2 separate regions of the Homo sapiens genome follow, and region 2 is linked to region 1. Evidence: fine-mapped expression QTL. Tissue or cell type: whole blood. Region 1 holds a variant in brackets; the other region holds the start of a gene. All regions are shown on one strand. Distances are between the middles of the regions.

Region 1 (8,260 bases):
CCTGGCCTCCTTGACCCACTTCCTCTGCCCGGTATGGTTCATAGTCACAATGGTGGCCTCCAAGAGGCAGCAAGACACTCTCATGCCCTGTTCCGAGCTCTCCCACTGTCTCCCCTGTGTGGCTCTTCCAGTTTCTGTGACAGTGGGCCTGCCCCCTCTGGAAAGGCAGATGGGCAAAGTCAAGGGCAATGACTGCAATCCCGTTGGGCATCTTCAATGGCACAAACCCTTTTCTTCGTCTGCAAGCTCCCTGAGGGCAGGGACTGGGCTTTGTTCACCCCGAATCTCCCAGCACAAAGCCTGGCACAGGCTGGAGAATGCTTGTTGCATTGGATTAAGATGCAAAGAGGCACAGGGCACTTCTGCCCACCAACCAGGGGAGAGAAAGCCGCAGACCCCGGACAGCATCCGAATGGCCAGTGGGAAGGCAGGGCCAGTGAGCACCTGGGTTTTATTTTTTTAGAGGCCACAGCTGGCAGGCTCCTGGCCTCCCCTGAACCCAGTTGCCACAACTTTCCACGATGTCCCTCTTCCCATTTCTCTTTCCTTCTCTCCCTCGGGGACTCCTGCACTAAGCAATCCTCAAGCTGCTCTCTTCTCCCAACCATCTCCTGGGTTCCCAAACTTTCAGACAGCATGTTTTTCCAGGAAGAATACTGTATGGGGAGCAAAACCAACATAGAGTTGGCAACTTTTTATTTTGTCCAATGAGGGCTCCCAAAACACAATAGAAACCATCAAAGAAGACAGAGCCACCTTTACCTATCCCTCATTTCCTAAAGGCCATTGAGCACCCTTGAAGTAGGAGGGACATAATCCCAGAATGAAGAGCCAGCGTTTGGGCAAAATAAATCCTATGGAAAGAAAAACTCAAGTTGTTCCCTCGTATTGTTTCACTTGCCTTTGGTCAGTGAAAGCTTTGCCACTAGCGCTTGTCCTCAGAGGAAAGTTGGGAACCATGAAGGCACAGCCTGCCATTCCCATTCTCTTTTTCTCTCTCTCTATCCCTCCCTCCCTCCCTCCCTTCCTCCTTTTCTCTCTCTTCTCTCTGTCTCTTTTGCTCTCACTCTCTCCTCTCACCCTCAAATTGTGGTAAAATAAACATAACATAAAATTTAGCATCTTAACCACTTTTAAGCACACAGTTCAGTAAATCAAGCCTGACATCACCTCTGGCCTTTGACTCCCTCTGGCCCACTTCCCCGTCCGCCCTCTCCAGCCAGACCACCATAAAGTGCAGTTCCTCAAAGCTTCTGCAAAGCCTCCCAGCTTCCCAGTCAGGCCTGGCTCCAGTCTAATGGAAGAGATAAGATCCCCTCTTTACTCCCTAACTGTGGGCAGCCCCAGCCTCCCATCCCCTGCAAGGCAGGGCAGGATGATGCCACCGGTCCCAGTTTGCCAGCTGTAAAATCCATTAGGGAACATCCAGCACAAACCACCCGCCTTCAGGCCTTTTCCTGCCCTCTGCCTGTCATTCTCCTTGGCCCCCAGGGTGCAGAGGGTCCCCAGCTTCCTTCCCCTGAAGATGCCCGGAGACAAGCATCTTTGGACCCCCGGTCCCTGCAGGGAACTCCAGCCAGCTGCCTGAAGCAAACGGGGCCTGAGAGATGGAATTGGGTCAGGTCATCCTTGACCCATTTCCTCTGGAAGGGAGTCGGGTGTCAGGAAACACATTTGCCTTTGGGTTTTTAATGTAATTCAACAAACCACAGCTGAAGCTCTTATCCTGTGCTGGGCATTGGGGGTGTGGAGTTCTGTCATTCATGACCGAGGACCTCATCATGAGACATTAGAGGGGCTCATCTTCCAGGTGAGCAATGTGAAGATAATGATAGATGGCCCAAGGGAATGTGCTGCTGGTGGTGACTCATCTCAGAGCTGAGGGCAGTCCCTCAGGGAAACATTTGGATGCTCCGCTCTGGCCATGTCCCAGGCGAGCTGATGGGCAGAGAGTTCTGCCTGCTTGCCCAGGGAACTCCATTCCCAGAGGCTACAGAGACTGCAACCTGGTAGAACCAGCCTGAAGCCCCCCTCCAGCCTGGGCTTTGGGGTCCTCATTGCCCCATGTTGTGGGTTTGGACCCACTTCAGCATGAGCAAGGGTCTTTATATCTTTAAGCCTCAGGGTTCCATCTCAAACATGGGGGTAAAACAGTATCAAACCCTGGGGGCAGGTGTCGATGTGGGAATTACATAAAGCAAGGCTGCAAAGTGCCGCCCAAGGGGCTCAAGCACCCACGAGCACCAAACGAGCACATTCTTTGTCTCCCTTGTCGGTGTTCCCTCTGTCCCGCCACCACTGGGCACCTCCCAGGGTCTCCTCGCCTCGTCTGCTGTCAGTACCTGCCCATCCCTCCCGCTCCCAGCTTTTCTTTTTAAACACCCTCTGGGTGCTGCATGTGCCTTTCCACATGCAGAGAACGGGCTAAGAAAGAAAGGGGTGGGAGGGACAGGTAAGCAGGGATAACTAATTCATCAACCGACCCACTGGTGGTCCTTTCTCCCTCCTCTCCTTCCCTCCTCTCTCTCTCTCTGACACACACACACACACACACACACACACACACACACACACACACACGCCACAGCGCCACCTTTCTCAAGTAGCACCTTAAAGCTCTGCATGGCTGTTAAAGAGGCTGGAAACTAAAGTCATAAGAATAATTGCCTGGCTCTCCTTTAAGCAAAGGAGATTGCACTTGTGCTTGGAAGCACCAGTAACTGGGCTGTTACGTTATATTACAAGTATATTTATATGAAAATACTGAAAATATCAATTCTTTTTTAAAAAACAGTTATGCAAACAAACAGACTTGATGGCATCATTATCAAAATTTAAAAAATATAGGTAGATATTCCCACCCCCGCCCGCATGTTCCAGCTTCTCCTTCCCCAACATGTGGTATATGTGACAGGCTGCATACATGCCCAGTGGCTGTTTTTTTCATGTAGTTGCTGACATGAGCGGATCATACCACAATGAGCAGGGTACCACCTGAGGGCCATGGTGGCCAGTTGGGCTCTGGCCTTGCTGCCTCTCACTGTGTGGCCATGGATCAGTTTCTTCCCCATTCTGGGCCTCAGCTTTCTCACCTGTGACATAGGAAAGTGGACACCTGGCAAGGCCCCCCCACCCACCCACCCTGCCACTGCTCTGACTTCCAGGACTGGACATCTGGGCTTGGCTGCCTGGGCTCACTCAGCTCCTGATTTTCCAGTAAGGTGGTCGCCTGCAGAGAACGGCCCTATGGCTTGGTTTCCAGATATCTGGAGAAAAGTGTGCTTTCTCTTCTTCCATGAAATCACAAATTTCTCTAGATATTTGGAAACCAAGTCACAGGGTTGTAGGATCTACTTTTTGAACTTTTCATCCCCTGTAGTTGCCAATTCTGCATGTACTAGTCTTGTAGAAATAAGTTAAACTGAAGCAGCTTGAGGGAAGGAACTTGATGGAAGGATGGAGAGTCTACAGGGCTTGTTTTCCAAAGAAAAGTGTTGTTTGGAGGAGCATAATTATAAGCCTACAGCTTATCATAAAGCTATTCAAAAAAAAAAAAAAATGGCCAGGCATGGTGGCTCATGCCTGTAATCCCAGTGCTTTGGGACGCTGAGGTGGGCGGATCACCTGAGGTCAGGAGTTCGAGACCAGCCTGGCCAACATGGTAAAACCCTAACTCTACTAAAAATACAAAAATTAGCTGGGCATGGTGGCAGATGCCTGTAATCCCAGCTATTTGGGAGGCTGAAGCAGGAGAATCGCTTGAATCTGGGAGGCGGAGGTTGCAGTGAGCCGAGATCGCACCACTGCACTCCAGCCTGGGCAAAAAGAGCGAAACTCCATCTCAAAATAATTATAATAACAATAATAATAATAACTCAGAGCCAGGCTTGTGGATGGAAATATAGTGCCCAAGTCACATTCTGCTTAAAGTTGTAACAAATACAGACGAGTTAAAAGAAAAAAAAAAGTACGCTTTCTGAGTCAGCCCCAAGGGCTCTCCTTGGCAGCACGGGTTTCCTGCCGGTGAAATGTCCTAGTTGCCTAGGACCCGGGTCCCCAAGGGCAGAGCTCACAGTGAAAGGCAAAGGGTCAGTGTGTGTGAGACAGCAATGGTGCTGGGTATCAGGCCCTCTTAGGTCCTCAGTTTCCCCTCTACTTAAAGGGCCTTTCTGGGTCTATAATACCTTATGATTCCAAAGCCGGACAGAAGGTCCGAGGAAATCCCCTCGTATTTGTAGTTGAACAGACAAAATCCATTTGTAGAGAGTGGGCATTAAGTACTTTTTTAAAGGGGAAAATTTAGTGTTGATTTAGGAAAAACATGATCCAGTTGTAGAGCACTTAGGAACCATCCCAGAGTTCCCTGGCAAGGAAGGGATGAGTTTCTGGCCTCGGGAACTCACATGGAGTCACCGCGGCCCCAGCCCAGGTGGTGCATGGAGCCCAGCTCGCCTACACCTGGCTGGAGAGGGCCTGGTTTTGGGTGGCCTGGGCCCTAGTCCCATATGGGGATGCACATGAGACCTTCTTGGCCCCATAGACCTGCTGTCTCCAGAGTCTTTTCTGGGAAG[C/G]GGAAGGAGAGCCCTTGAGACAGGCTGAACTCCAAAGCAGATTCTCTCACCTCTGTCCTGGACCCTCGATCCCTGGCCCCTGGCGTGGCAGATGCTTCCCTTCTCACCTGCAGCTCGAGCTCTCGACGATGAAAACTCAGTCCAGGAGCAACAGAGGAAACACATCTTTCCTGGGCACTGCCAGTGGGTGCTGCCCACCGAGTGTGCCTCACCATTCTGCATGGAAATCTTAAAAATCAAGCTTGTCTTCTTCCCTTTCTCCCTGAATGAAACACACAGAGCAGGATCTCACCGTTTCATGGGGGCTCGGTGTCATCACCAGGGACAGTCCTCATAGGTCTGTGTGATCAGAAGCCGCTGAGAGCTGGGGTTAGGGCTCCGGCATGCAATGCCTCCACACAGCTGTGCTTTCTTAGTTCGGGGATCTGCTCTCTGCAGCTCTTCTTTTTCTCCCTCGATATCACTCTGTCACTTGTCACTGCTATCATTGAACCTGCCTCTGGTCATTGCCATTTCTACTTCTGACACGTGGCAGCTACTCTTTGTGGTTGTTAAAACTAGACAAGCATACTTGTTCTCATTACGCATAAAGCAAGAGTCGCTGGGCACCAAGTGAGGGTCTATGGCGCTCTTCCACGTTGCAGCTCAGAGGCCTTTCATTACATCTGAATTCTGGGATTCGCTTTGGAGAAGAGGTTGCCATGAAAGTGACATGTTATTGTTCTTGCTTTCTAGGGTTGACTGCAGACCAAGTCAACAATACCACAAAATCCCATTGGAGGGAGCCATTGCTAGGAATTTTCCCAACTCCAAATAGAACTCGTATATGAAATTATACATACTGAGCATTTACATACAGATCATATAAAAATTCTAGACATTATTCCCTAGTCACATGTAGTACACATTTAGTATAAATAGACTAAGACAACACTGTATAAAAAGTAAGTGTCTTCTGGGAACGCTGACACAGCACTGATATGGATGCAGCTCTGCAGTCTTTGCCCTGCCCCTGTTTCCAGTTTCCCTGGCGAGCATCCTCAGGAGGGGCCCTGGGACTGATGGAGGTTGGAGGAGAAAGTCACCTGTGTGCCCCAGTGGGTTAGGTGGGTGGTGGGCCATTGTAGCGCAGCATGAGCGTGAAGGAGCGGGCGAAGTTGTTGGCCAGGGTGCAGCTGCGGTCCTCTTCCCTGATTGGGAGCAGGAACAGCAGGAGGAGGAACAGCAGCAGAAGCAGCTGCAGTGGGAGCGCCACACAGCACGCCCTCCGGAAGAGGGAGCCCAGTCCTCGCCACCGCCGAGTCTGCGGAACCAACACAGCACAGGTGAGTGGGCTGGGGGGCTCTGGTGGTGGGGGGCAGGTTCAGGGGGCGAGGAGGATGCCAGGAGCGGTGGTAGCACTGAACTGACTGTATGACAGTACACATCTCCAGGTTCTCATCTGTGAAACAGGGCTAATGTAAGTTTTAACAGAAACAGGGTTTCTGCAGTTTTCCCAAAGCATTCAAGGCATGAAAGGAAGAATAGAAAACACAGTTGCAGGCTCTGCCATTGTGACATATATCTTTGCCTGGTGTAGCAGAGTGCTGGCTGTGAATCCTAAGGTCACTTGACTTCTCTGAATCTCTAGTTTCTCATCTTCAGATGGGGCAATAATGGCACCTACATGACAGAATTGTCATGAGGATCCAATGAGGCAGAGCCTGGCACATAGTAAGTATGTACCAGCTGCTGTCATGATTAGTATGCATCCTTAATATTTCACCATCTAAATCTTCGTCATCACCATCATCACCAGCATCAAATTTATCATCGTCACTTTCTTCCTCCTCTTGTCTTTCTTCCCTTTCCTCTTTTTCCTCCCCCTCTTCCTTTTCTTTCTTTCTTTTTTTTCCTTTGAGATGGAGTCTCGCTCTGTCGCCCAGGCTGGAGTTCAGTGGTGTGATCTCAGCTCACTGCACCCTCCACCTCCCAGGTTCAATCAATTATCTCCCTCAGCCTCCCGGGTAGCTGGGATTACAGGCACCTGCCACCATGCCCAGCTAATTGTTTTGTATTTTTAGTAGAGATGGGGTTTCACCATGTTGGCCATGCTGGTCTTGAATCCTGACCTCGTGATCCACCCTCCTTGGCCTCCCAAAGTGCTGGGATTATAGGTGTGAGCCACCGCGCCTGGCCCCTCTCTTCTTTTCCTCCCTCTTTCCTTCCCTCTTCTCCCTCTCTTCCTCCTCCTCCTTTTATTTCATCATCAATTTCATCACCATCACTATTGCCATCAGTATCACATGAAGGTTAGTCTCACAAGTCCAAATGCCTAATGGACTTCTCTGCTACAATGTCCCTGAAAGTGGCCAAGAAAACATTTCCTAAGTTCTGGAGGGACTGGCCAGGTTGTGGCTTCATGGATGTCTGACTGCCAAGGAGTGCAGGGGCAAGAGCTGGTCACTCAGAAGAGTGAGGCCCTCATGGTCAAGATGCTGCAGAGTGCAGGACGAGCCCAGCTTTTAGGATCCTAGCAGACTGGGTCCCCACCCAGACTCTGTTACTCAACAGCTATGTGACCTTGGGCAAATCAATATTGGATCCTCTGTTATCTGCTCTGCAAAATGGGGATCAAACACCTACCCCTATTTGCTGGGCTGTGGTGAGGGCTCAAAGCAAAGGTATATATATACCTTGATTGATAAATGTACCAGTTCTTACTATTAGTACTATTAATACTTATTTATAATAATAGTGCTAGCACTATTAGTAACTGTTAGTGACATTCATCACTATTAATATTAGTAATCATAGCACTAGTACTATTATTATAGAATATATCTGCTGGCTCCCTAAAGAACCAAGGTTCACCCTCCAGGGCACCAAAAGCCACAGTCCCGTGATGATGATAGTGATAGTGACCATGGCGATGGAGGTGATGGCAATGATGGCAGTGATGCTTGATGATGGTGGTGATGCGATAATGATCATGACGCTAATGGTGGTGGGGTGGGGGTGGGGTGGTGAGAGTAAGGTGGTGATGATGGTGATAATGATCATGGAAATGGTGATAATGGTGATGATCATGGTGACTGTGATGGTGATGGTAAGTGTGAGTGATAGAGATGATGATGGTGATGGTGATGATGGTGATGGAGGTGATGGTGATGGTGATGATGATGATAGTGATGGTGGTGGTGGTAGTGATGGTGAGGGTGATGATGGTGATGAAGAAGCACTGTTAAATGTAAATGTTCCTGGGAGGTTCTAACCTGGGCAGTTCTGTCTCTCTACCTCTCCTCTCTGAGTCAACTCATGTATTCCCCTGCTCCAAGTATCCCCTCCAGATGATAACGCTTAACCCTGTGCCTCCAGTCTCAAATGTGTTCACTCACCAAAGTCTTTAGACACTGATTTTATAAAACAGGCTGATTATAACCATGAATAAGTACTCTTGGCTGCATGTATTTCAGCAGTGACTTCGGGAGTGGAGGGTGGGGGTGGGTGACACATTGTTTAAGCGGCTGAATGAGTGTGAGTTCACAGAGAAGGTGGTTCTTCCCATAGCTGCTGGGTTGGGTGGGGCCAAATCTCTGACCCATGAGACCCACCCAGGGAGAGAGAAAAGGGGCAAGACAATGAGCTGGAGGGCCACCCAGCCTGGGTTTCCACTGCAACTAACAACCTGTAATTAAGGTTCTCCCAAA
Region 2 (8,000 bases), 100 kb after region 1:
AGGCATGGTGGCACATGCCTGTAATCCCAGCTACTCAGGAGGCTGAGGCAGAACAATGGCTTGAACCTGGGAGGTGGAGGTTGCTGTGAGCTGAGATTGTGCCACTGCACTCCAGCCTGGGCAACAGAGTGAGACTCTGTCTCAAAAAAATAAATAAATAGGCTGGGCACGGTGGCTCATGCCTGTAATCCTAGCACTTTGGGAGGCTGAGGTGGGCAGATCACGAGGTCAGGAGATCAAGACCATCCTGGCTAACACGATGAAACCCCGTCTCTACTAAAAAAAAAAATACAAAAAATTAGCCGGACGTGGTGGTGGGCGCCTGTAGTCCCAGCTACTCGGGAGGCTGAGGCAGGAGAATGGCGTAAACCCGGCAGGTGGAGCTTGCAGTGATCCGAGATCAGGCCACTGCACTCCAGCCTGGGTGACAGAGCAAGACTCTGTCTCAAAAAATAAATAAATACATACATAAAATAAATAAAAAATAACACTCACAAGCCTACCACTGGACTGAAGAAACAGAACATAATGGATCCCACTGAGAGTGAAACAGACATCTCCCTGATCAATTACCCACTTCTCCCCAAAGATAATCACCTTGATTTTGCATTATCATTCCCTTGCCTTTTTCTTTTTTAAACCAGCTTAACTTTGTGAAATAGAATCTACGTATAAAGGCATGTATAAAACATACATGTAATTAGCCAGTAACTACAAAGTGATCTCCTTTGTAACTGCCCCCCCGACTCTCCTGATCCTCTCTCACCTTTCCTCAGCACGCGTGGTAATGCTTGGCTTTTATTTAAGCTAATCACCTTCTTGCTTTTTGTCGTCATTTTACTTCTCAGCTATGTGTCACTAAACAACTCATTGCTTAGTTTGGTTGTGTTTTGAGCTTTTATAATTGCCTTAGCAGTTCTCCATGGAGATGCTAGGATTCTCTATACCACGTCTGCAGCCTAGAAACCCAGGCGAGAGATCCAGGCTGCACTCTGGTGTTACAATGATAGTAGAGGGTTAGTAATAATAAAAACCATCAGTCCTATTTATGGTGTGCCCGCACCATGCCGGGCATTCTGCTAAAGCATCATCCCCAGTTACCTCAATTATCTTCGCAGCAACCCCAAAAGGGAAGTATTTCAAGAGGTCAAAATTAGGGCATCAGCTTCCCAAACTTGTCCCCCGTCCACTTCCTAGCTTCCTAGCTGCTCAGCCCCAGAACATCATCCCTAAGTCCTAAAGCAAAGGTTCCTTTCAGGATGGGAGGGTCAGGAAACACTGCTGCTCCTGGGTTCCTATCTTTGTGGTCCAGTCAGGCTGCTTAGATTATATATATATATATATATATATATATATATATATTCAGAATCCATATTCTTTTCCAGCAAGTACTGATGACTTAATGAAGACAAGCATCCTGTCCGGTCAGTACTGTTTTCCCAGTGATGAACGTACAACTTTGTCCTTGGATTGTCTAAGATAGGCCATGTGGTGCCAGGAAGAGCATCAGGTCAAAAGCCCTTAGTTCTAATCCTGGCTGTACCACATCCAGCCGCTGGATATCAGCCTTCTCATCTGTAAATGGGCAAGCAATGACAGCCTTGCCTACTACCAGATCCTAGGAGGTGAGAGGCAGGAAGAGCTTTGGAAGACCCCACGAACACATTTGAGTCCCTCTGTAGGCTTCTCTAGAACCCTTCAGAGTTGAAAGGGGTGACCAGGAACCTGGGAAAGAGTCCCAGGGCAGCCCAGGGTTGGAGCTTCAGGGCCAAAGTGGTTAACTGAAAATATTCATTATCACCCCGCCCAGGCTGGAGTCCCCTGGCTTCCAGTTTTGAAGCAGAGGTCAGCTAGGCGGTGTAGGACACTGCTCCTGGGTTGACCAATGGGCCACATCAATGGGTCAGCTGTTTGGGGTCAAGAGCCTCCTGCCCTCCCTGGGGCCAAGGGCCAGCTTTCAGTGCTGGGAGGACCATGAGGGGGGTGAGCCAGGACTACCCACCATTGACAGACAAGGGGAAATCAAGGCAGGGAGAAGAGGGGCAGAGGCAGAGCAGAGGGGAACCCAGGTATCCCGACGAGGCCCCTTCGCCTCAAACTGTGACACCTTCTCACATGTGCTGTGTCTGACACCATACAAAATGCTGATCAGGGCAAAGCTCGTTTAGTGCTCATGAGGCCCTGCGAGGCAACACCTGCCGTGCTATGGTTAGCCCCTTTCCACGGGGAAGGACGCTGAAGCTCTGAAAGGTGAAGCAACTTTCCCAAGGCTACACAGCCAGGAACGGGCTAAGGCAGGACTGGACTCAGGCAATCCAACTTGACTGCCCCATTCCTAACAGCTGGACAATGCGGGAAGCCTAGCTGCCCAGTGGGTTCCCAAAGGCTCCAGGGTGCTTTTGACGTTGAGCTGGGCCTGCCCAGTCTTGCCTCCCGGGGCCGCCAAGCCAGGGCCCCCCGGCAGCCCGCTCCAGGCTGCATCACAAGGCAAAGGGGCTGCCCAGGCATGGCCAGGTCCATGGCTGCTGGAGAGCATGCAAAGCACCCGAGCAGGAGCCTTGTTCCCATGGAGACAGACAGAAAGGACTCCAACTCACTCTGAAGTGTACCTGCAGGGAGCCAGGTGCCAGACTGTACCTGGAGGCAGAAACCTGAGCCTGGATTCTCACCACTTCCCTCTGTGCCACCAACACATCCTCAGGCCTTCTTCTCAGGACCCCCAGCAAGACACGAGTTCCAGAAATAAGACATCCCAGCCCACTTCCCGCTCAGCCACCCCCAGAGGGGCCTCTCTGGTTGAAAACAACGCCTGGGGCCAGCAGGCTTGGCACAGCTGTGGCTGTCAGCCTGCCGAGCACCGTCCGGCCTGAGGAATGTGCAGACCCACATGTGCTGGAGCATCCCGCTGGGGCACAGTGACAGGAAACTGAGCAAAACAGCTCGTTGGCACTGATATGCCCCTCCCACCTCCCAGCTCCTGACTCCTATGGGCTGTTGGCTGCCCTGGAAGTGCAGGCGGCAAGCCCAGGCCCTTCAAGAGAGCCAGGCAGTGTGGCTCTGGGCAAATCACTCCCCCTCTCTGGGCCTGTTTCTGCTTCTCTTGGTGGATGAAGGACGCTGTCCTGCCAAGCTCAGAATGGCAGTGATTTTATGACATGCTCTCCTTTCTGGGAGGACGGTCCATTCTCCTCATGCCCTCATTCATGTGGGATGGGGCATGCCCCCAAGACACATCAAGCTATCCCACTAGCAGCCCTTGGCTGTAGAAAGCCCCCCCACCCAGTGCAGGGATAAGGGTGACCCTTCAGAGTTGAAAGGGGTGACCAGGAACCTGGGAGAGTCCCAGGAAAGCCCAGGGTTGGAGCTTCAGGGCCAAAGTGGTTAACTGAAAATATTCATTATCACCCCGCCCAGGCTGGAGGCCCCTGGCTTCCAGTTTTGAAGCAGAGGTCAGCTGGGCGGTGTAGGACACTGCTCCCGGGTTGACCAATGGGCCACATCAATGGGTCTGCTGTTTGGGGTCAAGATCCCAAGACCCCAGGGGAAGTCAACATCCATCTGAGGCTCTCTCAGGCCCTGCAAGCCATCTCTGGCCTCACTGCCCTCCCCTTTAGAAATGTGGGAATGAGGCTCAGAGAGGTTGAGCTGCTTGCCAAGTTTGCATAGCCAAAAGGCGTCTGAACGAAACTGAGCATTCGGGGTTGGACTTCCCCTCTTCGCCGCCTGCTCTGCTCTCCCAGGCACTACTGAGCGCGCTCGCGGTCGCCAGGAGCGGATTGGGCCCCCGCCGCGCGCAAGCCTTGGTGACAGGTCAGCCCGCCCCTAGGGGAGGCAGAGGGAAGCCCCGAGGAGGCACCCGGCCCGCTGGGGCGCGCTGCCCGGGGCTTTAGGGCTTTTTCTTGTGGGCCGGCCGAAGCTCCCCGGGGTTGAAAGGAAAGGCTCGGGAATTTCGCAGCCAGCACAGAACGGTTGGATTTAAACTAAAAATACCCGCCCGCCCGCAGCTGTCACGCCGGGGCCCCCGCCCCCGCGCCGGGCGCGCCTCCCCAGGTCCCCCAGACTTTCGGCGCCCCCGATTCCCGGGGCTGTGTCAGAGCTGGGCCAGGGGCTGAGGACCCCACCCGCCCGGCCCCCGGCCCCCGGCCCCCGGCCCCAGGCCTGGCCTCCCGGCCCCGTGCCACTTACCCTCCCGGAGCGTGGAGGAGCGCGGCGCCGCGGGTAGCTGGGGCCGAGCCTCCTTCCCTCCTCCCTGCGTCCCGGGCGGCTCCGGGGCGGGGCAGGGCTGGGGCGGGCCCGGACACCGCGAGTACCCCCGCCCCCGCCGGGACCCGCCCGGTGGCCCCGCGGGAGAGGCCGCGCCCCTCTCCGCACGCGCTCAGCGGAGGCCCCGGGTGCGCAACCCCAGCCCGGCGGACATCCTGCGTGGCCCCGGGGACCAGGGCCGAAGAAAAGCCTCACCGCTCCCTGTCGCGGACCCGGGGCGGGGGTTAAGGGGGGGGTCCTGTCCACGCTTGCCTGGAAAGCAGCCCGGAGCCCTGGCCCCTGTCTGTCTCCCCGACACACACACAGCCACCCACCCTCTTCTCATCCTAGGGGATGGCGCGGAGCTGCCTCTCCGGGAAAGTTGGATCTGTGCGCCCAGACATGGAAAAGGGATTAGGACACCGGCAGATCTTGCCCTCACAGAGCGGAGGTGGGGGCCTTGGAAGGGGCACACCGCCCGTAGGCGCGAAATCCAAGAAGAAAATGACACTCATCAGCCAGCCTCGCGCGGGGAGAAAGGGCGGGGTGGGGGGTAGTGGCACCCTGCCCGTCCTCTCCCACCCCCACAGTCCGGGCCCACAGTCCAGGAGTCACAAGGGATGTGAATCCCCAGGCATAATGTGAACCCCCAACAAACCCAAGGCCTCAGAATGCGCCTCACCTCTCCCTCCCCACCAGCAGAAACATCCTCCCACTCTCCCAACCCCTGCTCCAGCCACGCCAACCCTTTAACCTTGTCCCAGAATGTCTAAACTGTATCTGCCTCTGTGCCTGTGCACATGAAGTTGCCTTGGCCCGGCGTTTGCTCCACAGCCTTCTGCCAAACTCCTACTGCTTGATGGCTGGAAGCCTTCGCACCCTGGCGCTCTCCTCCCAGGTCAGCAGTCACTGGCCTTCCTGTGCATCCAGCCCAGCTTTGAACAGTCCTGGGCCCCAACCCTTATCTTTTTCCGAGTAATTACATGGTTGCATGATTGGCTTCACCGCCTCTGGATCAGATGAGCGCTACTAATGAAGGATACAAGTTGTAAAACTAGGTTTTATGTGAACTCCAGTCATCACAGTTTAGGTGCGGCTAGCGATTTTACAGATGCGGGGTTAGTAACTGGCCCAAATCCAGGGCTTCCGGGATGCTGTTTTCCTTTTTTGTTTCTTAGCAGGGATGGCAGATGTTTGTAGAACAGATCCGTGTAAAAGTCAGTATCCTAAGAGATTAAATTGTAAAGCAGGACAAGATAGTTAACGGTGTGTGTGTGTGTGTGTGTGTGTGTGTGTGTGTGTGTATGTCTTTTCCAAATTGAGAGGGAGGTAGAAGAATTAGCCAAAACCCAGGATTCACTCTGAGGTAGACCCACACCTCTTAGTTAGATCCCATTTATTAAGCTGTAATTATTCACAGCGTTGCTGAAGATATACACAGGGCCCCTCCCATCTCCCTGCGACTGACTGGTTCCAAGTATGCTATTATATGTGTTATTATCACTGTGGCTCAATTAGAAGTGCTGCCGAAGGCCTTGAGGTTGCCACAGTCAAACTGCAGGTGCAGGCAGCGAGTAACAATGATTATAATGCCTGCATCTGGATCGCGCTTTTTGCTTTTCAGAATGCTTTCAAATGTGTCTCCTCATTAAATCTCTGCAAACATCCTCCAGGTAGTTAGGAAAAGTTTAATGAGTTTTGCCTGACAAGGGAAACCAAGACACAAAGAGGGCAGGTGACTTGCACAAGGAGAGAGATGGCTCCCCCAGGCTGCTCCAAGGGTGGAGCTGGCCACTGTAACTCAATGTCCTGCAGGAAGAGATGGTTGGGTACAGTTAGGAGCTCAGGCTCTAGTGCCAAAGTGCCCAATTTGCAACTTTCAGCTGATTACTCATACTTGGTTTCCTTTTCTGTTGAATAGATCTAATAATAGGAGCTTATCTTGTATGGTTTTGTGCCTGGTATTTGAGCACCCAACTCAGGCGAGCTGTTATGTTATGGTTCTGGGAATGGTATGATTGCTACAGTTTCTGCCATACAGCTATTCAGTCTTTCGTCAAACATTCCTGAGTATCTACTATGTGCTAGTCTCTGGGAATATGAAGAAGAATGAGGCATAGACTACTACCTCCAAGGAGGTCAGGGTGTAATAATTCTGTGTCAGGGGACCATGGTGCACAGAGATGAACTGTCCCTCCTGCTGCCGGTGCAGTGCAGAGCACCAGTTCAGAGCAGTGGAGATATTCACTTTCCAGGCCCAGCTTTGCTACTTATTTAGCTGAGTGAATCTTACACTGTAAGATTCTGTTACACATACAGTGTGCACATACAGTCTAATCTTACACTGAATGTGACCTCTTACAACATTGGTTTTTCTCATCTGTTAGATGGGGATAGCAATAATTTTTCATAGGTGAAAACACATGTGATAAACATATTTTATAAAGTACAAAATACTGTGCAGATAGTTTTGTTATTATCAATGTGATTGTTATTATCTTGGGCTTTACAGGGCTTGCTGCTTTTCAGAATACTCTCCCATTCCATTGCTTTTCTTAGAGTCTCGCTCTGTCACCCAGGTTGGAGTGCAGTGGTGCAATCTTGACTCACTGCAACCTCCTCTCAGATTCAAGCAACTCTTGTGCCTCGGCCACTTGAATAGCTGGGTCTACAGGCACACACCACCACACCCAGCTAATTTTTTGTATTTTTAGTAGCGACAGCATTTCACCATGTTGGCCAGGCTGGTCTCGAACTCCTGACCTCAAGATATCTGCCTGCTTGGCCTCCCAAAGTGCTGGAATTACAGGTGTGAGCCACCATGCCCGGCCATCCATTACTTTTCTTAAGCCTGACATAAACATCACATCAAAAACAGAACCCTATTTTTTATTTGATGCCAATCTTTTTCTCTCCAAAGTAGTCCACATGGAAGGAAAACAAAAGTTGAGTAAGCAATGCGAAGGGATGGGGCAGTTTACAACTAGGAAGTCCACAATACCTTCGTCTTCAGCATTACCTGCAGCTACATAAGGGGGTGGACATGAAAACCCATCTGGAAAAAAAAATCTGGCAAAGGATTGGGGGAAGAGCCCCTTTGTCATCTCTGGAATTGAACACAGGAAACCCCGCCCTGAGACCTTCCTTTCAGAAGCAGCCCAGAGAGGGAACCACAAGAAGGGCACTAAAATTATGCTGTTCGGAAGTTCTGACTCACTTGGCAGCGCGGGCTGTTTGTGCAACGTACCAAATGTCCTCCAAAAAGCGAAGTTTTTACCACTCTTTCCCTCTGTCCCTTCCCTGCAGCCAGCATCTCCACCACCACTCATGGGGAAGCAGGAATCAATTTAATAAGCCTGGGGAAATTATCTGGGTCTGTTTCACATTTGCTGTTGGTTAGCCAGCTTCAGTGGCAATCTGCACAATCCTCATTTTGTAAGCATGATTTTTTCAGTTGTTTGTGTGTGTGTGTTCAGTCTCCACAGATAGATTACAACAAAAGCTGCAATGGCTTTTCTGGCTAATAAAACACCTCATGGGTAAACTGAGGCAAGAGAGTAGGGACGAGGGGCATTGCCCAGGGTTCCAGGATAGGAATTGCTGTTCAGAACATTTACATTCCCATCTCTCCATCTCTAGCCTGGCTTCCCACTTAGTGGTGAAGTACATAAGTGCTTTCAGCTTAATACGGATGAAAAGCTCACATTAAGGGTGCCCACTTCTGGGGTGCCCCATCAGAGAGGTCTTGGTCTGAGCCT

What was found. PIP is the estimated chance that this variant, and not a neighbour inherited with it, causes the effect.
Region 2: SYNE3 starts here. The variant in region 1 is fine-mapped to the expression of SYNE3 in whole blood (TOPMed, PIP above 0.99).

Annotation. Positions count from the first base shown.
Region 1 is chr14:95,412,153-95,420,412 of GRCh38, forward strand. SYNE3 (spectrin repeat containing nuclear envelope family member 3) reads right to left here. Exons shown (of 18, transcript NM_152592.6): 18 at 1-5,874. The coding sequence ends at 5,674. Among named protein-coding and RNA genes, the nearest start is that of LINC02292, 87 kb to the left of the region's middle. The variant C/G (reference allele first, on the strand shown) is at 4,572.
Region 2 is chr14:95,512,411-95,520,410 of GRCh38, forward strand. SYNE3 (spectrin repeat containing nuclear envelope family member 3) reads right to left here and starts at 4,240. Exons shown (of 18, transcript NM_152592.6): 1 at 4,186-4,240. It overlaps SYNE3-AS1 (SYNE3 antisense RNA 1), which reads left to right and starts at 3,710. Exons shown (of 2, transcript NR_188030.1): 1 at 3,710-3,810; 2 at 4,594-5,501. RefSeq lists silencers at 3,642-3,936, 3,686-4,495 and an enhancer at 5,920-6,069.